Regions from separate parts of the Homo sapiens genome. Here region 2 is linked to region 1. Evidence: fine-mapped expression QTL. A gene starts in region 1. The other region holds a variant in brackets. All regions are shown on one strand. Distances are from middle to middle. Region 1 holds the start of GFM1 (G elongation factor mitochondrial 1). Region 2 holds the start of LOC124909452 (a long non-coding RNA gene).

What was found. PIP is the estimated chance that this variant, and not a neighbour inherited with it, causes the effect.
Region 2: its variant is the best candidate, but not a certain one, in a credible set for the expression of GFM1 in transverse colon (GTEx, PIP 0.69).

What each region holds. Positions count from the first base shown.
Region 1 is chr3:158,633,410-158,649,460 of GRCh38, reverse strand. GFM1 (G elongation factor mitochondrial 1) reads right to left here and starts at 4,934. Exons shown (of 18, transcript NM_024996.7): 1 at 4,746-4,934; 2 at 3,680-3,832; 3 at 3,164-3,296; 4 at 2,514-2,718; 5 at 304-420. The coding sequence starts at 4,826.
Region 2 is chr3:158,923,518-158,938,238 of GRCh38, reverse strand. It overlaps LOC124909452 (a long non-coding RNA gene), which reads right to left and starts at 14,297. Exons shown (of 2, transcript XR_007096143.1): 1 at 13,850-14,297; 2 at 2,879-13,164. RefSeq lists enhancers at 595-1,794, 1,354-1,935. The variant C/T (reference allele first, on the strand shown) is at 6,815.

The DNA of each region.
Region 1 (16,051 bases):
GATACAATACATTCACTAACCCAAATTTACTAACCCAAACTGAAGGCCTCCTTCTACCACACCATGCATGCCATAATGTGATATGGGTATATTACCCAAAAAGTAACATAGTCTCTCACAGAATAAATACTAAATAAAATGGGGAGCGACTAGGATTAAAGGTATTAAAACAAAACCATCTCAGAGTATTCTTGCAGTCGCATTTCAAAAAGATAGTTACTCTGCGTTTGATGAACTTATCCTTTCCTTCTTTTTAATGCTTTTTAAAATTTAAAATTTTAATAATGTATTTTTAGCACTTACCCAAAGTCTCCATCAAAATAGATGGCTCGTTCCTCAATAAGATCTACAATACCTTTAAAATTACCCTCCAAACCCATGGGTATCTGCATAAACGCTGCATTATGATTTAGTTTAGACCTGAAAAATAAAAATACACTTGTTTACCTTTTTTCTTCTCCCCTAATCCCTTTGAAATGACAAAATGAATATTTTAAAAAATCAGTGGCAGACACTGGAGAACTGAGAAGGGTGTTACCATCAGGTCAGAACAGAAAATATAAAGCAGCTGGGAACAGACTGACAACGTAACTCAAGGAGCTCAGGAAGCCACAAACCCATTTAGGCAACAAAAAGAACTCCAGAATAACTGTTTTACCATCAGATCCCCAGATACACTGGATCAAAAGCAGAAGGGGGAAGAACAGATAATGGAGGGCTAGCCAGGAAATTAAATAGTAGGATAGCTGAGCCCACCTCTTTTTTTTTTTTTTTTTTTTTTTGAGACAAGAGTCTCGCCCTGTTGCCAAGGCTGAAGTGTGATGGTGTGATTTCCGCTCACTGCAACCTCCGCCTCCCGGCTTCAAGCAATTCTCCTGCCTCAGCCTCCCGAGTAGCTGGGACTACAGGTGCCCGCCACCACGCCTGGCTAATTTTTTGTATTTTTAGTAGAGATGGGGTTTCACTATGTTGACCAGGCTGGTCTTGAACTCCTGACCTGGTGATCCACCCGCCTCGGCCTCCCAAAGTGCTGGGATTACAGGTGTGAGCCACCGCGCCCGGCCCAGGCTCAAAACTGAATAGAAACTGCATTCACTGGCAAGAATCCTCACTGGAAAAGAATATGCTCTAGCTACCACTGTTTAGTCTAGACTCTAGACTCCCATCTATAACTATGGTTAAAGATCTAAGAATCACCAAATATTTGAAGGAAACCAAAAGCTTGAAAGAGAAATGTGAACTTAATAGCACTTACCTCCAAGAAGAGAGTTACTAGAGGAAAGAAAATAAAATGTAAAGATTTGAGAAACAATTACCTCTACTGATAAAAATGTTGCAAGGAAAGAGAAAGTTTATGAAAATTAAGTACACAATTGCTGAAAAAAAAAGTTTTCAGGCAAGCTAAGTAACTGAAGAGACACAAATGAATATCAAATTAGTGAGCTGGAAGATCAACCCCAAGATTTCTCTCATAAGCCCAATCCAAAATGAGAAGGAGACAGAAAGAATAAGTACCATAGAAAAGACAAGGCATGAAGGTCAGATCTAGAAGTTCCAGATTTTTATCTGCTTTATAGAAGTTACAAAATGGAAAACAAATAAATGGGAGTGGAGAAAAGAATGAACCAAAGTAATCAAATAAATGCTAAAACAGTGTTTCCTTGGAATTCAGAAGAAGATTTGGGGAAAAAAGACCATCTATTGCCAAGCATAAGTAAAATAAGGATAAAAACTAAAAACAATTTACCAAAAAAAAGTTATAAACACCCAACTAAGAAAATGTTCACTTTCATATCAAATATATCACTTCCATCAGATTTTTTGTCATCAGATACACCATTCTCAGCCTGTCCACTACCATAAACTTTACACCTACATATCCATCAACTATGCCATGTGAAACGTAAGTATGAGCTCTACAGCTACACGTGCACATCTACAAAAGGTGAAAAGTGAAATTCTGACTCTTTTTAAAGGCTTTGTGAAATATATAATATTGTGTAAAATTTAAAATGCTATAAATACTACTGGTTCTATCTGGTACAGAAAGGAAGTGTTACTGTTGTCCTAGAAAATATGTTTCCGTCTGAAAACAAGAAAATCTCATCTCTATGGCAAACTACTTAAGGGCATTAATTAAAATGCTTCAAGGAAAAATTAAAACCAAAGATGATCTTTTGTCTAAATAAAACACAAGGTATTTTTAGAATCTAGATTATAACTTCTCTCATAATAGCAAAACAGTATAAACGGTCAGACTGTTTTCTGAATTCATCTTCAACCTCCCTAGAATTTAAGTAATATTGTCCCCATTTTAGAGATAAGGTAGTTGATGAGATCATACCACAAGCCAATTTACTAAAATCAGTGTTCCACTTACTAACTCACATAAATATATTTAAAAAACTAAATTTAAGAATAAAGTTTAATGACAGTGAATTAATCACCCTTTTGGATATAAGGTTTGCTGTCTAGATCATCACATCCTCTTTGTTTATTCTAAGGCTCATTACCTCATTTGCTGCAGGGCCCTGGCTGGGTTGGAGCCCATTCGGTCCAATTTGTTAATAAAAGTTAGAAACGGAACGTTGTAGCGCTTCATCTGACGATTGACAGTCATGGTCTGGCACTGTACCCCTCCAACAGCACAGAGAACAAGGACTGCACCATCCAACACTCTCAGGGCCCTTTCCACTTCTATTGTGAAGTCCACATGCCCTGAATAAGATGAAGTATGAGAGGGTCTTAAAGAGCAATCTGAATTTTTAATATATGCACTATTAGAAGTTTTTGTATCTCTGCTCATCACATAAGTCTTCTAATAAGAATGTAGATTCCTGAGCTCACCAATACTATTCACCAACCCTTAGGTGCAGGGCCTGGCAAGATCACTTCAAGAAAATACTAGGGCACAGGCACCTTTAGAATCAGCTAGAATATGTAAAAGGCAAGAATCTGCCTACTCACAATTTACTTGCACAAATTTTCAAGAAAACTACATAAGGATGAAGTGCTCTAGGTCCTAAGTTAGTCTTCTTTAATAGGAATTCAGTGTTACACTTTTGAGTATTTGACAATCAAAAACTAATTGGGTCACAGTAAGAGAAAGAACCAAATGTGCTTTTGCCAAAGAAGCTGCAATAAAACCAAGAATCCAACTCACCAGGAGTATCTATAATGTTAATATTGACATCTTTCCACATGGTGTAAGTGGCTGCTGACTGAATAGTGATTCCTCTTTGTCTCTCTAGTTCCATGGAATCCATGACAGCACCAACTCCATCTTTACCTTTCACCTAAACACAAGCACAGCAATTCAGACTTTCTCTGTCCCTGCATTCCAAGAAGGAAAGAAATCTTAACTGAAATGGAAACAGTTGCCAGGTGCAGTGGCTCATGCCTATAATCCCAGCACTGTGGGAGACTGAGGCAGGATGATAATTTGAGCCCAAGAGTTTGAGACCAGCCTGAGCAACAAAGTGAGACCTCTTCTATAAAAAATAAAAATAAAACCAGAACACAGATACTTAACTTAAGCAACTTTCAGATAAGCCTAACTGTCAAAAGTCCGCTGTTACCATTGTTTTAATCTTTCAGGTTTATAAGCTTTATTAAATAATAGCAACAAAACAATTAAAATCTGGTTCTAATTAATCCGGAATCAACCGTGAATATATACCTCATGCATCTTTGCAATTCTGCCAGTGTAGTAAAGGACTCGTTCTGTTAATGTAGTTTTCCCAGAATCAATGTGAGCTGAGATTCCAATATTTCGTATTTTTTCATTAGGAATCACCCCTGATGAAGACCATCGGCAGGCCTTCCAATTAACCTGAAAAAAATACGAGAGCTCAATTCTATGCACCTTTTATAAGAGAGAACAACAGACAATTAAAAGGAGTATGGTGGACATTATTCCTCCAAGAAATCTCACTGGATATGAGATAGCTTGAGAAAGGCACCAGGGGAAACCTTTAAGCCTGGAACTCTTGTAATCAGAGGACAGACTTCAAAACAAGACAGTAAAGACGTATTCTTTTAAAATTAATTAATGAATAAGTTAAATTTAATTAAAATGGGAGACACTTTTTACTGCAGATTTGAAAATACACACTGGGGCAGATAAAATCACAAAGACAGCTCCAAAAAATACTTTAATAGAAAATACAAATTTTAGCTTAAATTTAACTTAATTTTTTTCCCTTTCTCCTTTATTGTAGTTCACAGATGACAAATATGTTTGAGAACTTATATGCTCTATGCAGTGATGCTAGTAGCTCCAAGACAGCCCCCAAAGATTTCCAATTCCCTCCAAACAAAAACAATTCATGAAGCTTGTTTTAACTTTACTCTGGTGGCAGGGGATGGGGATCCCTATTAGATGGAATGAAGATACAATATAAACCTTTCCCTATAGGACTGCACATCCAAAATGCACAATTATTCACGGGAAAAGAGAGGCAAAAAAAAAAAAAAAAAACCTTAGAAAAGGTGGATAAAATATCAAAGTATCTGAGTGACAGACACTTTTAGTTGATTAAACCCTAGGGATACCAGAGAGCGAAACAAACGAGCTAACGAGCTAATGTGCAGGCACCGAGGTGCTTTTCAGCACTGACGAGCGACTGCCAGTATTCGGAGCTGTCAGTCATGAGGACCCAGGGGGTGTCACGGCCTTCCATTGCCCAGAAGGGATCACAAGGTTCCGGGAATGGTCCCGATTTAGCCTCTCTATGCTCCGGTACCTGCTTCCTCTGCCAGCCTAGGGAGGCGGGGGCCCTTCCGCGCCCCAGAGCCGCGACGGCTGCAGCTCCCAGGAGTCTCATGGCAAGCGCAGAGCACGCGTCAAAGTCCCGTGGCGCCGGGTGGGTTCAGCTGCCGGTAACGCACCGGGAAGCGGTCAAAGTCACGCCGGCAGCCAATGTTGTAAGAGCACTTCCGGGGCAAAGGACGCGAGGAAAAAGAGAGTGAGGAAAAGAAAGAAGAGCAACTGGATTGGAGGCGGAGCAGTGCCTACGCTGCTCGCGCGCCGTCTGCCGACTTGGAAGAGAAAGTGCAATCGCTTTGCGGAGCTAAAGAAGTGTTTGCTCCCAGTAAGACGGCATAGGTATATGGGTGAGGGAAGGGAGTCCTTTTGTCTTCGTCTTCTTTTTTAAATATTACCTCTGTATGAAGATACAGAATTTAAACATGGTTGTTAGGCCTATAAAGCAATGTGGAGAAATGTATATAACAATTTAAGTAGAAAAGAGCAAAATTGTCTATTACAAATATTAATAGGTATATATATGACATGGCCTGAAAAAGAACGTGGACAAATTATAGTGAATGAACTATCAATTACAATTACAAATACTTTTCCTCATGTCAAAATGTTATTTGTTATTGTTCGATGTCAGACATTTCATGTCCTGTCCATGTGGAAGACTGCATCCTTGACCATTCTGCTTGGATGTGTTAAGAGGCATGTTGAACCTAACAGGTCCAAAACTGAGCTTCGGATCTTCTTCCCCAAACCTTCCACAGTCTTATCCATCTCATAAATGTAAACTTTAGTGATTCTAGCCAAAAATATTAGTCGCTTTGACACCATGCTGTGACATCTCCGGTCTAATCAGTCAGCATATCCTGTAAGCTCTACTTTCAAAAAGACATCCAGGGCCGGACGCGGTGGCTCACACCTGTAGTCCCAGCACTTTGGAAGGCCGAGGCGGGCAGATCACGAGGTCATGAGATGGAGACCATCCTGGCTAACACAGTGAAACCCCGTCTCTACTAAAAATACAAAAAAAAATTAGCCGGGCGCGGTGGCGGGCGCCTGTAGTCCCAGCTACTCGGGAGGCTGAGGCAGGAGAATGGTGTGAACCCAGGAGGCGGAGCTTGCAGTGAGCCGAGATCACGCCACTGCACTCCACCCTGGGTGACAGAGCGAGTCTCAAAAAAAAAAAAAAAAAAAGAAAATCCAGAACTTACTTCTCCCCACCTCTCAGTACTGCCGTTTCTGGAGGGAACTATTGTAATAGCCTTGTAACCGATCTCACTGCTTCTATCCTTGCTGTTGTCAGTGGGCCGGTTCAGGTGCTTGACTTCACCACACAAAAGAATTTGAAAGCAAGTACAAAGTAAGAGTAGGCAAAAAAGTTTATTGTAAACCAAAAGTACACTCTGAGAGGCAGAGTGGGCTGCTCAGAAGAGAGACAGACAGCCTTTAGTATCTCTAGGGAATTCCCTTTATGGGTGAGGCAGGAGAACAGGGTCTAGAGACAGGGAACCGAAGGCCCTGCTGACTTCCTAGAGCTGAACCAAAAGGAAAACCCCACCTCTCCATGCCCAAGTAACAAAAGGATCGGAGGCTACTCCCAATGCACTGCATTGCAGATGAAAAAATGGAAAGTACCTCTGACTGGTCCCCTCTGGCAAATAATCAGACTGGTAGCAGGCCAAGTCCTCATGTGTAACTTTGTAACTTCACTTCAGCCTCTGATTGGTCACCTCCTGCAACCAAGCAGGCTGGTTATGGGCCACTCCTTCATTTACATAGGGTGTAACCAATGGGAACGCTCTAGAGGGTATTTAAATCCCAGAAAATTCTGTAACAGGTGCTCTTGAGCTGTGGAGTGTACTTTTGTTTCAACACATCTGTGCCTTCATTGCTCCATTCTTTCATTGCTTTGCTTATGTGTTTTGTCCAATTCTTTGTTCAAACGCCAAGAACCTGTATGACTCATAGTCAAGACCCTTCACTGGTAACATGGGAGCTGTACATATATATTCATAAAATACTGGTAAGGTCAAGTATGCAAAGGTGGACCTGTGGTTGGCACAGGTACTTGGCATCTACATGTTCTAACACAGGAGTCCCCAACCTCTGGGCCAGAGACCAGTATCAGTCCATGGCCTGTTAGGAACCAGGCCACACAGTAGGAGGTAAGCAGTGGGCGAGCGAGTGAAGTTTCATCTGTATTTACACCCTCTCCTTATCACTTGTATTACCACCTGAGCTCTGCCTCCTGTCAGATTAGCAGTGGCATTAGATTCTCATGGGAGTGTGAACCCCCTTGTGAACTATCCATTCAAGGGATCTGGGTTACGCACTCCTTATGAGAATCTAATGCCTGATGACCTGAGGTGGAGCTAAGGTGTGGCCGCTAGGGCTGGGGAACAGCTGCAAATACAGATTAACATTAGCAAAGAGGTTTGACTGCACAGAGACCATAATAAATCAATTGCTTGCAGATTCATATCAAAACCCTGTCAGTGAGTGTCAAGTGACAAAAGCTGCACTGGTGGCAAGCTTTATAGTGGCAAGTGAGTTGATGTATTTCAGTTGTACAGTTGCATCTGATGGCAGGCTTTAAAGTCTTGCGTGGCCCGCCCATTATTTTATTTACCACTTCCGTCCGCGCTTCCTTCCCACACTGAGCACTTGCCTCAGTCACAGTTTTGGTAAGCCCACAACCTAACTCTAGCCAAAACGAGTAAAAAACAAATGTCACTGGAGAGCTTCTTTGAAAATGGGGAAAGACCCAATGATGAGAAAATGGAAAACTCTAAGACTGCTAATAAAAGGAAAGCTGCATGTGAAAGAAAATACCTAGAGTCCTACTTAAATTGCAGGTTCACTGCAACAGGTGATTCACATTCTCCAAGCCTGCTTTATATAATATGTGGCAAGCGGCTATCCAACAAACCCATGAAACCTTCAAAACTGCTTCGCCACATGGAGACCAAGCACCCTACATAAAAAGAGAAGCCTTTGGAGTTTTTCAAAAGAAAAAATGTGGACACGAAGAACAGAAGCAATTATTGAAGGCCGCCACTTCCATCAAATGTGTCTGCATTGACAGTGTCATTCTTAGTGGCTAACAGCATTGCTAAGCTAAGAAGCTCTTTACTACTGGAGAATTGAACCTGCCTGCTGCTAAGGACATTTGTCATGAACTTTTAGGAGATGCTGCAGTTCAAAAGGTGGCACGTGTGCCTCTTTGGGCTAGCACCATAATTAGAGGAAATGATGAAATAGCAGAGGATATCGAGGCACAATTACTAGAAAGGATTAATGGGGCTGGGTGCAGTGGCTCATGCCTATAATCCCAGCACTTTGGGAGGCCGAGGCGGGCGCATCACAAGGTCAGGAGTTCAAGACCAGCCTGACCAACATGGTAAAACCCCATCTCTACTAAAAATACAAAAATCTGCCAGGCATGGTGGCATGCGCCTGTAATCCCAGCTACTCAGGAGGCTGAGGCAGGAGAATCACTTGAACCCGTGAGGCGGAGGTTGCAGTGAGCCAAGATCATGCCACTGCACTCCAGCTTGGGTGACAGATCGAGACTCAATCTCAAAAAAAAAAAAGAAAAGAAAGGATTAATGGGTCACTCTGGTACAAAATCCAGGTTGATTAATTTACTGAGGTTGACAACAAGTCAACAATGCTTGTTTTTGTGTGATTTTTCAGGTGGATGTGCATGAGGATATGTTATGTGCACTTTTGTTGCCAACCAACACCACAGCGGCAGAACTAGTCAAGTCTTTGAATGATTACATAGCAAAACTGAATTGGTTATTTTGTGTCAGTTTATGGACCGACAGAGCAGCTGCCATGACTGGACAGCTTTCTGGTTTCACTATTCGGGTCAAAGAGGTTGCTTCTGAATGTGAGTCTACACACTGAGTCGTCCATAGAGAAATGCTAGCTAGCCAGAAAGTATCAAATGAACTTAACGTTTTGCAGGATGTGATTAAAATTATCAACCACATTAAAGTACGTGCCCTTAACTCACATCTGTTCACACAGCTCCGTGAGGAGATGCACACAGAGCACACACACCTTCTTATACACAGAAATGAGATAGCTTTTTAAAGGTGGATCACTGGCCAGAGTTTCTGAGTTATGAGAGTCATTCCACAGATTTCTTTTTTTTTTTTTAATTATACTTTAAGTTTTAGGGTACATGTGCACATTGTGCAGGTTAGTTACATATGTATACATGTGCCATGCTGGTGCGCTGCACCCACTAACTCGTCATCTAGCATTAGGTATATCTCCCAATGCTACCCCTCCCCCCTCCCCCCACCCCACCACAGTCCCCAGAGTGTGATATTCCCCTTCCTGTGACCATGTGATCTCATTGTTCAATTCCCACCTATGAGTGAGAATATGCGGTGTTTGGTTTTTTGTTCTTGCGATAGTTTACTGAGAATGATGGTTTCCAATTTCATCCATGTCCCTACAAAGGACATGAACTCATCATTTTTTATGGTTGCATAGTATTCCATGGTGTATATGTGCCACATTTTCTTAATCCAGTCTATCATTGTTGGACATTTGGGTTGGTTCCAAGTCTTTGCTATTGTGAATAATGCCGCAATAAACATACGTGTGCATGTGTCTTTATAGCAGCATGATTTATAGTCATTTGGGTATATACCCAGTAATGGGATGGCTGGGTCAAATGGTATTTCTAGTTCTAGATACCTGAGGAATCGCCACACTGACTTCCACAATGGTTGAACTAGTTTACAGTCCCACCAACAGTGTAAAAGTGTTCCTATTTCTCCACATCCTTTCCAGCACCTGTTGTTTCCTGACTTTTTAATGACTGCCATTCTAACTGGTGTGAGATGGTATCTCATAGTGGTTTTGATTTGCATTTCTCTGATGGCCAGTGATGATGAGCATTTTTTCATGTATTTTTTGGCTGCATAAATGTCTTCTTTTGAGAAGTGTCTGTTCATGTCCTTCGCCCACTTTTTGATGGGGTTGTTTGTTTTTTTCTTGTAAATTTGTTTGAGTTCATTGTAGATTCTGGATATTAGCCCTTTGTCAGATGAGTAGGTTGCGAAAATTTTCTCCCATGTTGTAGGTTGCCTGTTCACTCTGATGGTAGTTTCTTTTGCTGTGCAGAAGCTCTTTAGTTTAATTAGGTCCCATTTGTCAATTTTGGCTTTTGTTGCCATTGCTTTTGGTGTTTTGGACATGAAGTCCTTGCCCACGCCTATGTCCTGAATGGTAATGCCTAGGTTTTCTTCTAGGGTTTTTATGGTTTTAGGTCTAACGTTTAAATCTTTAATCCATCTTGAATTGATTTTTGTATAAGGTGTAAGGAAGGGATCCAGTTTCAGCTTTCTACATATGGCTAGCCAGTTTTCCCAACACCATTTATTAAATAGGGAATCCTTTCCCCATTGCTTGTTTTTCTCAGGTTTGTCAAAGATCAGATAGTTGTAGGTATGCGGCGTTATTTCTGAGGGCTCTGTTCTGTTCCATTGATCTATATCTCTGTTTTGGTACCAGTACCATGCTGTTTTGGTTACTGTAGCCTTGTAGTATAGTTTGAAGTCAGGTAGTGTGATGCCTCCAGCTTTGTTCTTTTGGCTTAGGATTGACTTGGCGATGCGGGCTCTTTTTTGGTTCCATATGAACTTTAAAGTAGTTTTTTCCAATTCTGTGAAGAAAGTCATTGGTAGCTTGATGGGGATGGCACTGAATCTGTAAATTACCTTGGGCAGTATGGCCATTTTCATGATATTGATTCTTCCTACCCATGAGCATGGAATGTTCTTCCATTTGTTTGTATCCTCTTTTATTTCCTTGAGCAGTGGTTTGTAGTTCTCCTTGAAGAGGTCCTTCACATCCCTTGTAAGTTGGATTCCTAGGTATTTTATTCTCTTTGAAGCAATTGTGAATGGGAGTTCACTCATGATTTGGCTCTCTGTTTGTCTGTTGTTGGTGTATAAGAATGCTTGTGATTTTTGTACATTGATTTTGTATCCTGAGACTTTGCTGAAGTTGCTTATCAGCTTAAGGAGATTTTGGGCTGAGACAATGGGGTTTTCTAGATAAACAATCATGTCGTCTGCAAACAGGGACAATTTGACTTCCTCTTTTCCTAATTGAATACCCTTTATTTCCTTCTCCTGCCTGATTGCCCTGGCCAGAACGTCCAACACTATGTTGAATAGGAGCGGTGAGAGAGGGCATCCCTGTCTTGTGCCAGTTTTCAAAGGGAATGCTTCCAGTTTTTGCCCATTCAGTATGATATTGGCTGTGGGTTTGTCATAGATAGCTCTTATTATTTTGAAATACGTCCCATCAATACCTAATTTATTGAGAGTTTTTAGCATGAAGGGTTGTTGAATTTTGTCAAAGGCTTTTTCTGCATCTATTGAGATAATCATGTGGTTTTTGTCTTTGGCTCTGTTTATATGCTGGATTACATTTATTGATTTGCGTATATTGAACCAGCCTTGCATCCCAGGGATGAAGCCCACTTGATCATGGTGGATAAGCTTTTTGATGTGCTGCTGGATTTGGTTTGCCAGTATTTTATTGAGGATTTTTGCATCAATGTTCATCAAGGATATTGGTCTAAAATTCTCTTTTTTGGTTGTGTCTCTGCCCGGCTTTGGTATCAGAATGATGCTGGCCTCATAAAATGAGTTAGGGAGGATTCCCTCTTTTTCTATTGATTGGAATAGTTTCAGAAGGAATGGTACCAGTTCCTCCTTGTACCTCTGGTAGAATTCGGCTGTGAATCCATCTGGTCCTGGACTCTTTTTGGTTGGTAAACTATTGATTATTGCCGCAATTTCAGCTCCTGTTATTGGTCTATTCAGAGATTCAACTTCTTCCTGGTTTAGTCTTGGGAGAGTGTATGTGTCAAGGAATGTATCCATTTCTTCTAGATTTTCTAGTTTATTTGCGTAGAGGTGTTTGTAGTATTCTCTGATGGTAGTTTGTATTTCTGTGGGATCAGTGGTGATATCCCCTTTATCATTTTTTATTGTGTCTATTTGATTCTCCTCTCTTTTTTTCTTTATTAGTCTTGCTAGCGGTCTATCAATTTTGTTGATCCTTTCAAAAAACCAGCTCCTGGATTCATTGATTTTTTGAAGGGTTTTTTGTGTCTCTATTTCCTTCAGTTCTGCTCTGATTTTAGTTATTTCTTGCCTTCTGCTAGCTTTTGAATGTGTTTGCTCTTGCTTTTCTAGTTCTTTTAATTGTGATGTTAGGGTGTCAATTTTGGATCTTTCCTGCTTTCTCTTGTGGGCATTTAGTGCTAGAAATTTCCCTCTACACACTGCTTTGAATGCGTCCCAGAGATTCTGGTATGTTGTGTCTTTGTTCTCGTTGGTTTCAAAGAACATCTTTATTTCTGTCTTCATTTCGTTATGTACCCAGTAGTCATTCAGGAGCAGGTTGTTCAGTTTCCATGTAGTTGAGCGGCTTTGAGTGAGATTCTTAATCCTGAGTTCTAGTTTGATTGCACTGTGGTCTGAGAGATAGTTTGTTATAATTTCTGTTCTTTTACATTTGCTGAGGAGAGCTTTACTTCCAACTGTGTGGTCAATTTTGGAATAGGTGTGGTGTGGTGCTGAAAAAAACGTATATTCTGTTGATTTGGGGTGGAGAGTTCTGTAGATGTCTATTAGGTCTGCTTGGTGCAGAGCTGAGTTCAATTCCTGGGTATCCTTGTTGACTTTCTGTCTCGTTGATCTGTCTAATGTTGACAGTGGGGTGTTAAAGTCTCCCATTATTAATGTGTGGGAGTCTGAGTCTCTTTGTAGGTCACTCAGGACTTGCTTTATGAATCTGGGTGCTCCTGTATTGGGTGCATATATATTTAGGATAGTTAGCTCCTCTTGTTGAATTGATCCCTTTACCATTATGTAATGGCCTTCTTTGTCTCTTTTGATCTTTGTTGGTTTAAAGTCTGTTTTATCAGAGACTAGGATTGAAACCCCTGCCTTTTTTTGTTTTCCATTTGCTTGGTAGATCTTCCTCCATCCTTTTATTTTCAGCCTATGTGTGTCTCCTCATGTGAGATGGGTTTCCTGAATACAGCACACTGATGGGTCTTGACTCTTTATCCAACTTGCCAGTCTGTGTCTTTTAATTGGAGAATTTAGTCCATTTACATTTAAAGTTAATATTGTTATGTGTGAATTTGATCCTGTCATTATGATGTTAGCTGGTGATTTTGCTCGTTAGTTGATGCAGTTTCTTCCTAGTCTCGATGGTCTTTACATTTTGGCATGATTTTGCAGCGGCTGGTACCGGTTGTTCCTTTCCATCTTTAGCGCTTCCTTCAGGAGCTCTTTTAGGGCAGGCCTGGTGGTGACAAAATCTCTCAGCATTTGCTTGTCTGTAAAGTATTTTATTTCTCCTTCACTTATGAAGCTTAGTTTGGCTGGATATGAAATTCTGGGTTGAAAATTCTTTTCTTTAAGAATGTTGAATATTGGCCCCCACTCTCTTCTGGCTTGTAGGGTTTCTGCCGAGAGATCCGCTGTTAGTCTGATGGGCTTCCCTTTAAGGGTAACCCGACCTTTCTCTCTGGCTGCCCTTAACATTTTTTCCTTCATTTCAACTTTGGTGAATCTGACAATTATGTGTCTTGGAGTTGCTCTTCTCGAGGAGTATCTTTGTGGCGTTCTCTGTATTTCCTGAATCTGAACGTTGGCCTGCCTTGCTAGATTGGGGAAGTTCTCCTGGATAATATCCTGCAGAGTGTTTTCCAGCTTGGTTCCATTCTCCGCATCACTTTCAGGTACACCAATCAGACGTAGATTTGGTCTTTTCACATAGTCCCATATTTCTTGTAGGCTTTGCTCATTTCTTTTTATTCTTTTTTCTCTAAACTTCCCTTCTCGCTTCATTTCATTCATTTCATCTTCCATTGCTGATACCCTTTCTTCCAGTTGATCGCATCGGCTCCTGAGGCTTCTGCATTCTTCACGTAGTTCTCGAGCCTTGGTTTTCAGCTCCATCAGCTCCTTTAAGCACTTCTCTGTATTGGTTATTCTAGTTATATATTCTTCTAAATTTTTTTCAAAGTTTTCAACTTCTTTGCCTTTGGTTTGAATGTCCTCCCGTAGCTCAGAGTAATTTGATCGTCTGAAACCTTCTTCTCTCAGCTCGTCAAAGTCATTCTCCATCCAGCTTTGTTCCGTTGCTGGTGAGGAACTGCGTTCCTTTGGAGGAGGAGAGGCGCTGTGCGTTTTAGAGTTTCCAGTTTTTCTGTTCTGTTTTTTCCCCATCTTTGTGGTTTTATCTACTTTTGGTCTTTGATGATGGTGATGTACAGATGGGTTTTCGGTGTGGATGTCCTTTCTGTTTGTTAGTTTTCCTTCTAACAGACAGGACCCTCAGCTGCAGGTCTGTTGGAATACCCTGACGTGTGAGGTGTCAGTGTGCCCCTGCTGGGGGGTGCCTCCCAGTTAGGCTGCTCGGGGGTCAGGGGTCAGGGACCCACTTGAGGAGGTAGTCTGCCCGTTCTCAGATCTCCAGCTGTGTGCTGGGAGAACCACTGCTCTCTTCAAAGCTGTCAGACAGGGACATTTAAGTCTGCAGAGGTTACTGCTGTCTTTTTGTTTGTCTGTGCCCTGCCCCCAGAGGTGGAGCCTACAGAGGCAGGCAGGCCTCCTTGAGCTGTGGTGGGCTCCACCCAGTTCGAGCTTCCCCGCTGCTTTGTTTACCTAAGCAAGCCTGGGCAATGGCGGGCTCCCCTCCCCCAGCCTCGCTGCTGCCTTGCAGTTTGATCTCAGACTGCTGTGCTAGCAATCAGCGAGATTCCGTGGGCGTAGGACCCTCCGAGCCAGGTGTGGGATATAGTCTCGTGGTGCGCCGTTTTTTAAGCCGGTCTGAAAAGCGCAGTATTCGGGTGGGAGTGACCCGATTTTCTAGGTGCGTCCGTCACCCCTTTCTTTGACTCGGAAAGGGAACTCCCTGACCCCTTGCACTTCCCAGGTGAGGCAATGCCTCGCCCTGCTTCGGCTCGCACACGGTGCGCACACCCACTGGCCCGCGCCCACTGTCTGGCACTCCCTAGTGAGATGAACCCGGTACCTCAGATGGAAATGCAGAAATCACCCGTCTTCTGCGTCGCTCACGCTGGGAGCTGTAGACCGGAGCTGTTCCTATTCGGCCATCTTCCATTCCACAGATTTCTTTTAGAAAAACAGTCACCAGTGGCAGCACATTTCAGTGACACAGAATGGGTCACAAAATTTGCTCAGTCGTATGACATATTTAACCTGCTCAATGAACTCAGTCTGTCACTTCAAGGGAGAATGACAACTGTGTTCAAGTTGGCAGATAAAGTGGCTGCATTCAAAATCAAACTGGAATTATGGGGGTGATGAGTTAACACTGGGATTTTTAACATGTTTCGAATATTAGCAGAGATTTTGAAAGAGACTAAGCCAGGGCCTTCTCTCTCCCAGCTAGTGCATGATCACCTATCTTAGCTTTCAAAAGAGTTTGAGCATTACTTCCCAACCACAAAAGACCCCTGAACTGGAAAGGAATGTATCTGTGACCCATTTGTGTTGTGGTCCCCCCAAACGGAGGGACCGGCTGGAGCCGAGGCAGAAGAACATAAATTGTGAAGATTTCATGGACATGTATCAGTTCCCAAAATTAATACTTTTATAATTTCTTAACGCCTGTCTTACTTTAATCTCTTAATCCTGTCATCTTCGTAAGCTGAGGATGTATGTCACCTCAGGACCCTGTGATGATTGCGTTAACTGTACAAATTAATTGTAAAACGTGTGTTTGAACAATATGAAATCAGTGCACCCTGAAAAGAACTGAATAACAGCGATTTTCAGGGAACAAGGAAAGATAACAATAAGGTCTGACTGCTTGTGGGGTCGGGCAGAATAGAACCATATTTTTCTTCTTGCAGATAGCCTATAGACGGATGTGTGAGTAGGAGAAATATCGATGAATTCTTTTCCCAGCAAGGAACATTAATAACTGAAACCCTGGGAAAGGAATGCATTCCTGGGGGTAGGCCTATAGACGGCTGCTCTGGGAGTATCTGTCTTATGCGGTTGAGATAAGGACTGAAATACACCCTCAGGCTTACTAGGATTGGGAAATTCCAGCCTGGTAAATTCTAGTCAGACCGGTTGTCTGCTCTTGAACCCTGTTTTCTGTTAAGATGTTCATCAAGACAATGCCTGCACAGTGGGACGTAGAACCTCATCAGTAATTCTAATTTTGCCTTGCCTTGTGATCTTTATGGCCCTTTGAAGCATG
Region 2 (14,721 bases), 290 kb before region 1:
GGTTTCCTGGTGTTTTTGCCTCATAACTCTTAAGATTCTTTCCTTCTTCTTAACTTTAGAAAACCTGATGGCCATGTGCCTAGGCAATGACCTTTTTGTGATGAATTTTCCAGGTGTTCCTCTAGTGTCTTGTATTCGGATGTCTAGTTCTCTTTCAAGGCCAGGGAAGTTTTCCTCGAATATTCCCCCAAATATATTTCCCAAACTGTTAGATTTCTCTTTAAGAATGCTGATTATTCTCAGGTTTGGTCATTTAACATAATCTCAGACTTCTTGGAGGCTTTGTTCGTATTTTCTTATCCTTTTTTGTCTTTGTTGGATTCGGTTAATTCAAAAACCTTGTCTTTGAGCTCTGAAGTTCTTCTGCTTGTTTGATTCTATTACTGAGACTTTCCAGAGCATTTTGCATTTCTATAAGTGCATCCATTGTTTCCTGAAGTTTTCATTATTTATGCTATTTCATTGAATATTCCTCCCTTCACTTCTTATATCATTTTTTTTTAATTTCCTTACATTGGGTTTCACCTTTCTCTGGTGCCTCCCTGATTGGCTTAATAACAAACCTTCTGAATTCTGTTTCAGTTAGATCAGGGGTTTCTTCTTGGTTTGGATCCATTGCTGGAGAGCTAGTGTGATTTTTTTGGGGATGTTAAAGAACCTTGTTTTGTCATGTTACCAGAGTTGGTTTTCTGGTTCCTTCTCATTTGGGTAGGCTATCAGGGGGACAGTCTAGGGCTCAAGGCTGTTGTTCAGTTCTTCTGTCCCATGAGGTATTTCTTTGATGTAGTACTCTCCCCCTTTTCCTAGGGATGTGGCTACCTGAGAGCTGAACTGTCTAGCTGTCGTGGTTGTTAATCTCTTTTCTGGATCTAGCCACCCAGCAAATCTACCAGGCTCCAGACTGGTACTGGAGGTTGTCTGCACAGAGTCCTGTGATGTGAACCATCTGTGGGTCTCTCAGTCTTGGATACTGGCACCCACTCCAATGGAGGTGGCAGGGGTGTGAAATGGACTCTGTGAGGGTCCTTAGCTTTGGTTGATTAATGCACTATTTTCGTGCTGGTTGGCCTTCTGCCAGGGAGGTGGCTCTTTCAAGACAGCATCAGCTGTGGTAGTATGGGGAGGAAGAGGCAGTGGGCAGGGCCCTAGAACTTCTAAAAGTATATGCCCTTTGTCTTCAGCTACCAGGGTGGGTAGGGAAGGACCATTAGGTGGGGGCAGGGCTAGGCATGTCTGAGCTCAGACTCTCCTTGAGCAGGTCTTGCTGCAGCTGCCGTGGGGGATGGGAGTGAGGTTCCCAGGTTAATGGAGTTAAGTTCCTAGGAGGATTATGGCTGCCTCTGCTGAGTCATCCAGGTTTTCAGGGAAGTGGGGGAAAGCCGGCAGTCACAGGCCTCACCCAGCTGTCATGCAAACCAAAGGGCCGGTCTCACTCTCACCGAGCCCCGCCAAAAGCCCCAAGTCTGTTTCCAGGTGGAGGGCGAGCGGGCTTGAGAACTTGCCTAGGCTACCCGCCTTCCAGCTGCGAAAGAAAAGGACTTGGTTTGTCCCCTGCCTGTGGAGTCTGCACACCGGATTCGTGCCCTCCTCCGAGTGTTAATGCTTCCTGCCACCTCACTAACTCAGATCAAGTGACAACTTTTGTTGGTCATTTTCTAGCAGGAAAAAAGATTCTCCAAAATTTTCTGCCCTGATCTAATTTCTTAAAAAGTCTTTCATAATGTTTTCTCTAAATTTTAAATATAATCATAATTAAGTACAAGTTTTGCAATACATATCTAATGAGAAGATTAGAATTCTTCTTGGAGGATAACATTTTGCTTTATTGGGGTCCAAAGTCTTCCCTATTACTAAGGCAAAAATGTAGCCTATAAATGAATGATCCAGACAAAGCTTCCCTTGGGTTTCAGAATGATACAGCTAGAGGGGACTTTATAGAGCAAATATTTTAACCCTCTTTTACTGATGAAGAAAATGAAGCCTGGATTCCCAAAAACATCTGCTCTCATTTCAGTGTCTCCCAGCCATGTAGGGAAGAGAACATAAGTCTTGAGACGTGTGGTTCCATTGTGCCTCTTCTTAGAAGGCTTAATGATGCACTAAGACTTTAGAATCAGCAACTCTGCATAGCAGCAATTTGAGTGCTGCAACCAACCAAACGACGACTCACTTTTGTAAACTGGTCTGAACCAAATTCCTGAACTTCCAGGCATTGCCCACATCCTGCCTCCCGATGATCTTGCCCACCTCAGTGAACTGCCACCCCGCCCCTCCAGTTGCTCAGGCCAGGAATCTGCCTCATCCTTCACTTTCTTTCAGACACCCTGCATTCAGCAAATCCTCCTAGCTCTACCTGTAAAATGTATTGAGAATCTGCCCTCCTCTTCACTACCTTCACCTCTGTGACCTAGGTCCCAGCCACTTCTAGGATATTGCAACAGCTTCCTAAAGGGTCTTCCTGCCTCACCACTGTCCCTGGAGAGTGCAGTTTCCATCCATCATCCAAATGATCCTTTTAAAATTATGTCTCTTACATCTTAGATCAAAAGTTGGCAATGATTGGTCATCTCAGAGTAAAAGCTGACCACCTTGCTGTAGCCACCCAGGCCCCTTATTACCTCCCCAACCTCATCTCCTACCATGCTCTTCCCGCTCAGACATTCCAAATATTCTCCTGTCTCAGGGCCTTTGCACTTACTGTTCCATCTGGAACACTTTACTCCCAGACACCCGCATGGTTCATCCCTTTTCTCCTCTAGGTCTGTGCTCAAATGTCACCACCACTCTCCTGTCCATTCCCACTCCACACACAATAACGCCTATCCTCCTTTTAGGCTTTTTCTCCATAGTAATTACCACATCTATAATACTATATAACTTATTTATTCATTTATTTTTTTTCCATTAAAATGTAAGCTCTGTGAAGGCATGGATTTGGGTCTTTGTTTCCACGGCTAGAAACCAGATCTGGCACATCACATGCCCTCACTAAGTATGTGTTGAAAAAATGTAAAATATTATGGTGGGCAACACTATGTCTCCCTCAATCCCCACATCCCAAATATACTGGTGCTACTTTTAAACCTCACCTCTAAAGCCCCACGGCCAATAGATGATGAAATATCACATTATACTCTGCTAACTTGTCCTTATCAACAGGTGTTTGAATGTGGTTTGAGAACAATTTTTAATAAACTATTTCATCCTTTAATAGATACAGTGAACAAATGCAAAGTGTCATAACACATCAGACTTTTATTTGCATTGAAAAATCAAATTGGCAGCTGTGCAATAATAAAAACTTAAGATTATGAGTTGCACAAGGAACAAATAAAGCCTGATCAGTTGGGTTCAGAATTCTCTTGCCTTTCAATACCAGCTATCCATTCCCACACTAATAGTTCTTCCAGACTGTGCTCCTAGAATAGGAAATATTACCCCCAGCCATCTACATTGCCTTAAGAAACCACCCATCATAATCTGCAAAGCCTCTGGTTTTAGACTACTTTGCTCTTCTCTTACCCTGGCTCAATAATTCTTAACCAGAGATGAAATATCAGTTGACTGAGAAGCCCACACATAGTACATATTGCTGGCCCCCATCCTGAGAGATTCTGATTCATGGGCCTAGAGGGGGAGTAGGGGAGAGCAGATATGTAACAGCTGTATTTTAGCAAAACTCCCTGGTGATTTTGAGATGTTCCTCTGGTTCAGAACCACTGTTCTAGTTGATATGTATGCTAAATATCATTGCTATGTGAGTCATTTTAATTGATGAGGGGGAGGACCTAGGAGGAACCCTCAATACTCAAGGACAGAGGAGCCACAAGTTTTCCAAAACTCACATCTCCCAATTGAAAAAAGACACAGGGGCCAGCTGACCTTAACTGGAATAATTCCCTGGTCCACATGGTGATAGGAAGAATGGGATTTCTGCAATTTACTTAAGCCTTAGCATAACTTTTTTTTTTTTTTAAGACAGTCTTGCTCTGTCACCCAGGCTGGAGTGCAGTGGCATGATCTCGACTCACTGCAAGCTCCACCTCCAGGGTTCACGCCATTCTCCTGCCTCAGCCTCCCGAGTAGCTGGGACTACAGGCGCCCACCACCACGCCTGACTAATTTTTTTGTACTTTTAGTAGAGACAGGGTTTCACCGTGTTGGCCAGGATGGTCTCGATCTCCTGACCTCGTGATCCGCCCGCCTCAGCCTCCCAAAGTGCTGGGATTACAAGCGTGAGCCACCACGCCTGGCCAGCATAACATTTTTAACTAGGTAGAAAATGTCCATTTCCTTTCTCCCAAGACTTCTGCCACACTTTGTGATAATAAAATCTACCAGTCCTCTACAATCCAAGTCAGCCTTTGTCTTTCTCCTTAGTTATCCCAGTTCCCAAAAAGTAGGAGGCACAGTTCCTGAAAAGAGGGTTCTGATGTGGGATGTGCGAGTGAGGAATATTTAACTAGGGCAGTACACAGCAGCAAGAATCGGAGAGCTACACAGTCCATGGGGTCAGGGGGGGCTTCCTAGAAGTGACATTTTAACCTGTACTTGATGGATATGGAGGAGTTAGCCAAGGAATGAGGAGCAGAAAGGAATGTTGCAGGCACATGACGCAGCATGTGAAAAAAAAAACAGGAATAAATCCAGTCTGGATGGGGCAGAGACTTTAAGGAGAGCAGAAGAGAATATAAGGGCCCGATCATCACAGGCCTTCCAATCCATGCTAAGGAAACTGGACTTTATTTTAATGTTGAAGAGAAGCCACTGGAGGGTTTTTGAATGAGGGAGGGACTTAAGCTTTGCATTTTAGGAAAAGGCAGTCTAGCTGTCCTGGGTAGCAATGATTACAAAGGAGCAAGGCTGCATGCAAGGAGACTGGGTAGGAGGATGCCACTGCATTTATTCAAGTGAGAAGAGGTTTAGAATCACTTCTTTTGCTGCTTCCCCACTATAATATGAGAGACAGCATCAGAATCACTGAAACCAGAATGATTGAAGGTTTGAGGACCTGAAAGTTCTTTTTATCCTTCATACAGCAATATTTTTTAAAGTTTATTTAGCACCTATTATCTTTTATATCTATATTGTTCAATACAGTAGCCACTAGCCACATGTGATGATTGAGCACTTGAAAGGTGGCTAGCCTTATTTGAGCATGCTTTAAATGTAAAATTCATACCAAATTTTGGAAACTTAGAAAAATGTAAAATATCTCAATAATTTGAATATTGATTACACATAAAAATGATAGTATTTTGAATATATTGGGCTAAATAAAATATATTAAAGTTGATTCCACCTGTTCTTTCACTGTTTGAAATGTGGCTACTAGAAAATTCTAAATTGCATATGTGACTCCTACCTATGGTTGGATTCTATGTCTATTGGGCAGAGCTGTTCTAGGTACTGTGCTCAGCACTGAGAATACAGCAGAGAGCAAAACAAAGCCCCTGCTCTTATAAGAGCTTAATTCCCAGTGGAACATAATCCCAAATCAATCTAAAAAAATCTAAATAGGCCCATTATTTATTATCTATATAATCACCCACTTATAACCATCATACAACATTGTACCCAAGTTTGTATCACAATCACATTGGCACCAAGGAGTTCTTCAGAGATCGACATAACTCATCAATAACATTTTTGCATATGATGGGAGCCAAAGGACTTCACAGACAAACAAAGGTCTTGCAGTAGAAAACTGTACAAGGTTAACCGAGTCATCCTATCACATGTGAAGTGGAGGTCCTGCATCCAAAGAGCCTGTAGTGCCAACGCCATCGATGTATTGCAAGGTGTGGCTGTTTCAGCAAAGCAACAGCATCTATCACATTAAATCAGTACTACTAACTTGAATTTTATTGTTATTGTCATTTGCATATGTTTTTGTTAAATTTAGTTTTATAATTCATAAAGATAAAGATTTATAATTAATGTTTCGTTTGAGCCTTAAGTAGTAATACTATAATAAGAATAAATTTTATACTGGAGATATGCTGTAATATTTTTCCCTTAGAAGGGATCCTTATATTACTCAAGTTTTAGAAATCTTGCCCTGGGGATCATGGTGTTCATCCTATCCACTGAACCACCTCTACCCTCCACCATTCCCACTCCACAACTCAAGGCTTCCCAGTAGCTCACAGCTTGCCACTTGTCAGCAGCACTTGACGGCCCACTGAACAACTGGCCTCTCTCTTCTGTCCTAGAAGAAGGTCCATGATAATTCAGGGGCCTATCTTCAAGCCAACAATGGTTCTCAGGGAGAAGAACATACACCCAGGAGTGACATACAGAACATTCAAGGACTGGTATGCTGCAGGCACTGCCCAGTCACAATGGATGCCACCTATAAGGAACAAGTTCAGCTGTGCCACTGTGTTCCAGCTGACCACCTCCCTGCATGCCCCCACCCCCACCCTCATCCCACCCTGGACCTTGTTTCTCAGACAAGGGAGGGCTCCCAGGAGCCCCCAGTTGTCTTGCCTGACACCAGACACCTCAATTGTCTGAAGGGCTGCCTTGGAGTATTCGTCTCTCTGTATCACTCCCATTTATGATTCCTAGGCCTGCATAATGGAGTGGGGTAGAGGGGCATAAATCCTGCTAGGTTGAAAGACAGCAGAGCATAATGGTTAAAATTATATACTTTGCAACCAGTCAGCCTGGGTTTGGGTCTTAGCTCCCGTAACAGGCTGGCATGGCCTTGGGCAGGTTCTCTGTACCTCCATTTCCTCTTCTGTGAAATGAGCATAATACTGAATCTTCAGTTGAGTTTATGAGGATAATTAAAATATTGTCCAGAATG[C/T]TTTTGGGACAATACTTAGCACTTTTTAACAGTTACTATTATTGGGAAGTTCAAGGATGTCTTTCTCTCCCACAATGGAAATAAAATGTGGAATTAAAATAGTCTAAATCCTGCAGTAACCCTGTCTCCCCTGACTTTAGATTTGTATCTCCTGCTGCCTTTCATTAGGGAGGACTTCATCTCTAACGTTGGAGTTAGTCCACACAGCCTTCCCTTCCCTCACTTATAACCACCGTGGGTTTCTTGGCAGAAAAATAGACTTGGGGGCCCCTATAGGGAAAGATGCATTTGGCAGAGAAATAAGAGAATTGCTTTGGTGCAAACCAATATGTCACCTGCAAATCCACACATTTGCGGTCTTATCAATGGAACTCCAGAATTCCACAGCTCAGTTTCTAAGGAAAGAGTGTCATACCTAGGTGTTTCTAGGTATGAAATGTTTGGGACCCCTGCTGACTTCAGCCATTTTCAGACATCATATTCCTGGAAGGCGGGAGTTGGATATCACACCTAAGGCACCCAAAGCATTGAGCAGAACAGATTTTACCTCCTGGTGTGTCATGTTCAGAATCCAGAATCACTGACTCAAAATACTAAGGAAGTGTGGTCCTCTAAAGCAGTAGCTCTCACATTTTCATGGGTATTCAAAATCACCCAGGGAACCAAACAAAAATATGAAAGACCCAGTCCATATCCTACTTCAGTGAACCCAGGCCTTCATGCACTTTACCAGTTCAAGTGTTTCCTGGTAGGCACCAAAATGTGAGAACCAGTGGTTCTAAAGCAAAGAAACCTCAACAGCCCCTACCATGCTATACTCTAACACTTTGCAAATGTCTTCCCTGAATACCCCTTAATCCCAAGTCTTCCTTTCTATACTTTAATAAAATTAATAAAGACATAAAAGTACTAACCATGTTTAAGTAATGCTGTCTATGCACACAGTGGCATTTTGAAAAGGTATTTGCATAAGTTTATTTTAGACTTGGGGATTCTTACAGCTTTTATGTTGTCTCACCATTGCTGATAGAATACTTTAAAATTATGATGTGAAGACATTTAATTAATTTTTAATTGAAATGACTCCAGGAAGAAAATTATAAATAGCACATTTGTCTTCACTGTTTTCATTATAAGGCACAGAAAGTGATGGATGAACAAAAAACACAGCAAAACTCTCACACAGAGAGTGTAGTCACCAAAAACAGAAATATAAGACTTTCTGGAGTAATGGTCCAGTTCAATCATTCCCAACAAGTGAGTCCAGAATTCTAGAGATGAATCACCTGGATTCTAGTAAGCATCTTTTAAATATCAGAAATGACCAAAAGAACACCCTTTCAGACACTATGACTGATTTGATCTAAAAAGGTTCCAACTCAATGGAAGGCAATATTCTGACATTTTGTTCTTTGCCTTGGAGTGCAAACTTTTACCACAGCACAGTGTTGTGGAAGGTTGTGTGGTGCCCAGGAGGCAAGACTGTATAGAGCAGGAAGTAGAGAACCCGCGCCCAGTAGGCTTGGTTTGGAATACTGGCCCCACCATGAATTTGCCACCATGTTATTCTGGCTATTCAGCAACCAAATCTAGAAGTTGCCCTGCATTCCTCTCATCCTCTCACACTCCACAACCAATCCAACAACAAATCACATTAGCTGTACCGTGAAAATATATCCAGCATCCAATTATTTTTACACTCCACTACCATCAAGATTCTTGCTACCATCATCCCTCACCTGGATGATTATACAATAGCTTCCAAATGATTCTCCCTGCTATTAAAAATAAGTCAGATCATGGTGTGCTTCTGCTCACAGATGTTCATTTTACTCAGTTAAAGCCCAAGCCCCTACCCTGACCGACGGAGCCCTGTGGGTTCTCCAGCTCAACCCACACATCTCCTCCTTCCTCCCTGCACTCCAGCCTCAGGGCCTGTTTGCCACTCCTCAAGCCCACCACTCTCATCCAGGGGCTCAGCACTTGCTGTTCACTCTTTTTGGAATTCCCCAGCCCCTATAGCTACATGGCTCACTTCCTGTCCTCCTCCAGTGACACTTCAAATGTCACTTTCTGAGTGATGTTTGTGGACTTTATACCTACTACAGTTACGTATATAGAGAAAATATCTGCAAGATATATAAGAAACTATCAACAGAAAACTCTAGAAGTTGGATCAGTTTGGGGACAGAGTAAGGGAAAAGACTTATTTTATACTCTTCAGTATACTTTGATATTTTTATAATAAAGTAATTAATAATAAGACTATGAAAATGCTAAGTGAGGAGGTACTCAGTCTAGTTCACAGAAACTTCGGTAACTCTAACAGTTCACGAGTATTATAGCTCATAAGGCTTATGTGTTTAATGCAATTTTTATAGGCTAGTCTGGCAAGGAATCTAGACATGGTGTATATTGTTTTCTTGAGGAAGAAAACCATTGCCTGCTCCAGCCTATTACGAGTGCCTTTGTCCTTCTCTTCCCTTCTGCTGCCTCTGCTTCTCTCCTCCCTGCCTTGTTGCTACTTACCTGAGTCACCTCAGGTGGTTCCTTCAAAACTTCAGCCAAGCCCCAGAAGTCTAGCTCCAGCCAGGTGTGTGGTGAGACAGCAATACAATGGCTCGAGGATCTTTCACCTTCCTCAAGGCATGAGACATAGACTAGCCAACTGCTCACATGTATGGGGCATTTGTGAGCCTGGTGTTCCCAAGTCCCAGCCTGGCAACCTGTGAGTGTCAGCAAGAGAGATGCCCTCTTTCTAGAAGGCAATGTTCTCAGCTTTGTGGTTAAAAAGTCCCATTGAGCAGCCCACAAACACTGGAGGCCAGGTACCCATCCTTCGGGTTTCAATGCAAAGCCAGAATTTACAGGGATATTCAAGGTTAGAACTGCAATTTTTCTTTCAGAAATTAATGTATAATTGAAGGCAGAAATGTGTAACAGAGCACTAAACTAGGACTGAGGAAACCTGGGTTCCCCCACTGACTGGCATATTGATTAAGTCACCTCATCTTGAATATAGGGAGTCGACGGGGTGATGGCTGATGAGGCCTTCAACCCTAATAACTGCTTTATCATCACTGTAATCCGTTGAGTTCTTACCATGTGTCAGATCCTTCATAGTTGTCACATAAGTTCCCTTATGAAGCCTTCATTATCACAAGAATCTAGCAAGGTAGGTATTCCAGAAGAAAACTCATCCCCAGGAATAGTTTTAAAACTTGATTAAGGTGATATTTGGCTGCTTGGCGGGTCTGGGACTCAAACCTATGCTTGTTCAATTTTCCTGCCCTGCCTCCTCTCTACATAGTATCCCTTGCACAGACAGCAGTCTGGAATCCTCACACTGCACAAGTCCCTGCCTACCAGGAGGCAACTCTCTGGGGCTGAATGGCATTTGTTCACTCATTCAACTGTTATCTATGCCTCAGTTGTTGAACACTGTCTAACAATGTCCCTCAATGAGTTTGGCCCTGCAGGTGCCATGTGAATCACTCTGGCCACTGCTAAAGGCTAGTGTCATAGCCTGCTCAGGTGGTTCACAAAGTTCAAAAGAGATAGCAGTTATTATTGGAATGGTAGTGCTTGGAGAGGGAGAGGAGTTAGGGCACAAGCCCTGCTCATCTGAACCCAGTGAGAGCTTCACAGAGTTCAGCCCCTGCATGCATTGGGTTCAGATGTCCCACAAGGAAACTGAGGGGGAAACAGTGTGCTGCACAATGTTCTTAGAGTCACAGGGGAAACCAAGCAAGAGAATGTAAGTGACATGACTCAAACCCCTCACCTCTATAAGGAAAAGCAACTTCAATGTCTTACATTGTCTGTAGATTCAGATCTCCTCAATCTGAGGCCAGACTGCTTCCACTGGCATCCAGGCATGGGACTTTAGGAAGGAACAGTTCCAGGATTTGGAGGAAAATGTATTGTTTCGGCATGTGTGGCTCCCAGTTTGCAGCCAAGATGGTCCAGCAAAGGGGAAAGACTATAACTTGAAACAAACATAGACTTCCCTACCATTGCAGCTGGAGGCTTTGAATAAAAGTACATGCCTAGAGAACACAGGAGTGTGCCAGACAGAACCCAGCTCACGGCCAGGGCCCAATGTGCATTTTGAGGATTGTTTTCCAATGAACAGTCTGTCTTCACAGATATTGAAAAACATTCAGTTAAACACAGTGAAATGGATTTGCACGTTCATTTGATTGTGGTCGTGAATTTGTTATTACTTCAGGAATTGTCAGGGCCTTCATTTGACCATGGTACCTCTTCTGCATTGAAGATCAGTGGGAATAGAATTTCAGGGATTTCTCTCTGGGAAACATTGTGTTCCACAGCATTCCAGTTTTAAAACAAGATTTGGCATTCTTTTTTGATAAAGATCCACATTTTAGGCTTTTCAGGACATGAGACAAAATCAAGGATATAATATAGGTACCTAGCTAGACAAGAGAGAAAAAAATATTCTACAAGTTGTTAAAATTCAAAAGCATTTTTAAAATTCTATAAAATTTTTACAAATATTCAAAAATTTTAAATAATCATAATTAAGTACAAGTTTTGCAATATACATCTACTAATGGGAAGACTATAATTCTCCTTGGGGGATAACATTTTGCTTTATTGGGGTTCAAAGTTAGTATTCCCTATTACTAAGGCAAAAATGTAGCCTATAAATGAATGATCCAGACAAAGCTTCCCTTGGGTTTCAGAATGAGACAGCTAGAGGGGACTTTATAGAGCAAATATTTTAACCCTCTTTTACTGATGAAGAAAATGAAGACTGGATTCCCAAAAACACCTGCTCTCATTTCAGTGTCTCCCAACCATGTAGGGAAGAGAACACAAGTCTTGAGACGTTTGGTTCCATTGTGCCTCTTCTTAGAATGCTCACACTTCCTCTGGGAGAGCCAAACTAGGGGCATATTTATCTTCTGGAATGTAGTACATACCTTTCAGCACTTAAAAAAACAAAAAGCACATCCAGAAAAGCCTCTTTTAAGAGACCATGTTCTGTTTGTTAATAAAACAGATGGAAGTGGCACCACATGACTTTGCCCCACAAAGGCACTGTTGCTCATTATTGCCATGTTGTTCTTATTCATGCACAAGACTGTGTGTCTCCACTGGATTGTATGTACCTCGAGGACAGAGTCAGCATCTTATTCATCTTTCTGTCGTCAGCACCTGGCACATAACAAAGGTTCAATAATTGTTTAAGCTCAATAAATCTTGAATTAGATAATGACTTCTTTTGCAAAAACCCTTTCAAATCCTTCACTTTCAATAAGTGTTGGTCACATGATCACTGTGCTTAAAACTCTCCATTGGCTTATGCTGTACTTGGAATGAAATCCTCACTCCTCATTCTGGCTCAAAGGCCCTTCTTGATCTGGCCCTGTCAACCTCTCCGACCTTGTCTATTTCCACTCTTTCCCACACCAGCCACACTGGCCCATTTTCCATTCACCAGATGCACTAAGTAGACCGCTGCTCTAGTGCTTACATTTCCACATGCCTCTTCTTGTGTTTCCCTGCCCACCCCCCATCATTCTCATTTATCACTATCCACATCTTCTTATGTATTTACGTTTTCTTCTGTATACATATGTGAGCTCCATAAGAAAACATTTCTTTGCTGTCTTGTTTACCACCATTTTCCTAGCCCTTTTGTTGATGTCTGGCACATTGTAGGTAGTCAATGCTTGTTGAATAAATAAATTCCTCCAGGATTACTCGGCCTTCTTTTCACTCTACTTATTTAATACAACAAATGTTTAATAAGTAAATCAAGAATGAATTAATCTTCCTTTTGGCTTCAGGATGGGATCTTGGCCTGGATCAAAAGTTTTATTTGGCTAGAATGTGGGGAGAAAGACATGGTGAGAAAATCAGAAAGAACCAAAGACAAACCTGATGGTGCCATTGTGTAAATGAAAAGTTACCTGGCTCTCCAATTTGTTTTCATCTTGCTTTATGTTGCTTTAAACCAATGCCCCCAAAATTACAGCCTCTCACTGGCTGGCACATAAATTTCTGACTTTAAAACCACTTTATTTCGAGTTTGATGAATAGCTTTTGTCACTAGGTAGAGTAATTAAGGGAGCGGTGTTGGCACTCGCCAGGCTGGGCTGACATTACTTTTTTTTCAGTGTTTTGTTACCTGTCTGTCGGATTTGGCAGAGCTCATAGAAAGGCTCAGGGCTGAGTTATGCACATCGTCTCCTGGCAGGAGCTTTGTCAGGAAGATATATCACCCTCCTCTACTGAGCAGCCTCTGTTTTCCAAGAACTGTAGCAGGCACACCTGGCACAGTGGCCAAGGCCCTCTCTTCATCTCCAGTGACAGTTTGGCTACCAAGTGAAAAGGACAGATATTTCCTAGTTGAGATCTTCATATGTCTTGAGTTCCCTACTATATTCAACTTATTCTCCACAGAGGATACTTTATTAATAATTCAATATAAATTTCAAAACAAATGCTTGAGAGCATTAGAATCGCCATCTTGTAGGAGTGAGGAAAAACAGCTCAAAGCACTTTGCAAAGCACAATCTTCACGGCACATTCCAAGAAATAGAGAACGAAAGGGAATCACAGGCCATTAAAGCTAGACTTTACCTAAAGATTCAACTGTAGCATTTTATGGATGATGAAGCTGAGTCTCAGAAGTGACTTTCTCATAGTCCCACAGTTAACCAATGGTAGTATCACTATGTATATATGATCATCTCTTGGTATCCATGGGGGATTGGCTCTAGGATCCCTCACAGATACCAACATCTGAGAATTCTCTGATTTTATATGTCTCTTGTATAAAATGGTGTAGTATTTGCACATAACCTATATTTATATTATTTATAATACCTAATACAATGCTTGCATATCACTTCACATGGATTCAACATAGCACAAGGCACACAGAAAATTAAAGCTTTGCTTTTTGGAATTTTGCAGAATTTTTAAAAAGTATTTTTGATCTGAAATTGGTTGAACCCATAGGTGTGGAGCCAACAGATACTGAGGGCCAACTGTACTTACTTGTTCATTCAGTGGTATTCAGCTGGCAACTGGGCTGGTCTTGAGAGACGAAGATGACCTCACTCAAAATACAAATTGTTTCAGACAATACAAAAAGACAATAGAAAAGAGGTCAGCATAACCTCTCTATCAAAACATGACAAAGACATTTCAAGACTACAGGCCAATCTCTCTCATGAAAATATATACAAGAAAACAGCAATATAGATATAGATATTAAACGATACTACACAATTACCAAATGGGGTTTACTCTAGGACTGCGAGGTTGGTTTAACATTTGAAAATTATAATTAACCACATTAACTAGTAAGAGAAAAAAATCATGATCATCTTAATTGATTCAGAAGAAGCATTTGATAAATGTTAACAGTCATTAATAATTTAAAAAACTTTTTTAAAAAATTTAATGTTATTTTAAGTTCCAGGGTACATGTGCAAGACGCACAGGTTTGTTACATAGGTAAATGTGTGCCACTGTGGTTTGCTGCACCTATCAACCCATCACCCAGGTATTAAGGCCCACATGCATTACCTGTTTATCCTAATGTTCTCCCTCTCCCCAGACCCCTCCCCAGCCCACACGCATGCACGCGTGCACACACACACACACGCCCCAGTGTGTGTTGTTCAGCTCCCACTTATAAGTGAGAACAGCATCCCACTTATAAGTTCCTGTGTTAGTTTGCTCAGGATAATGGTTTCTAGCTCCTCCATGTCCCAGCAAAGGACATGATCTCATTCCTCTTTATGGTTGCATAGTATTCCATGGTGTTTATGTAAAAACTCTTAGCAAAGTAGAAATAGAAGGGCTCTTGTTTAATCTGGTAAAAGGTATCTTTAAAAATAATATAATTGACTTCCTACTTAACT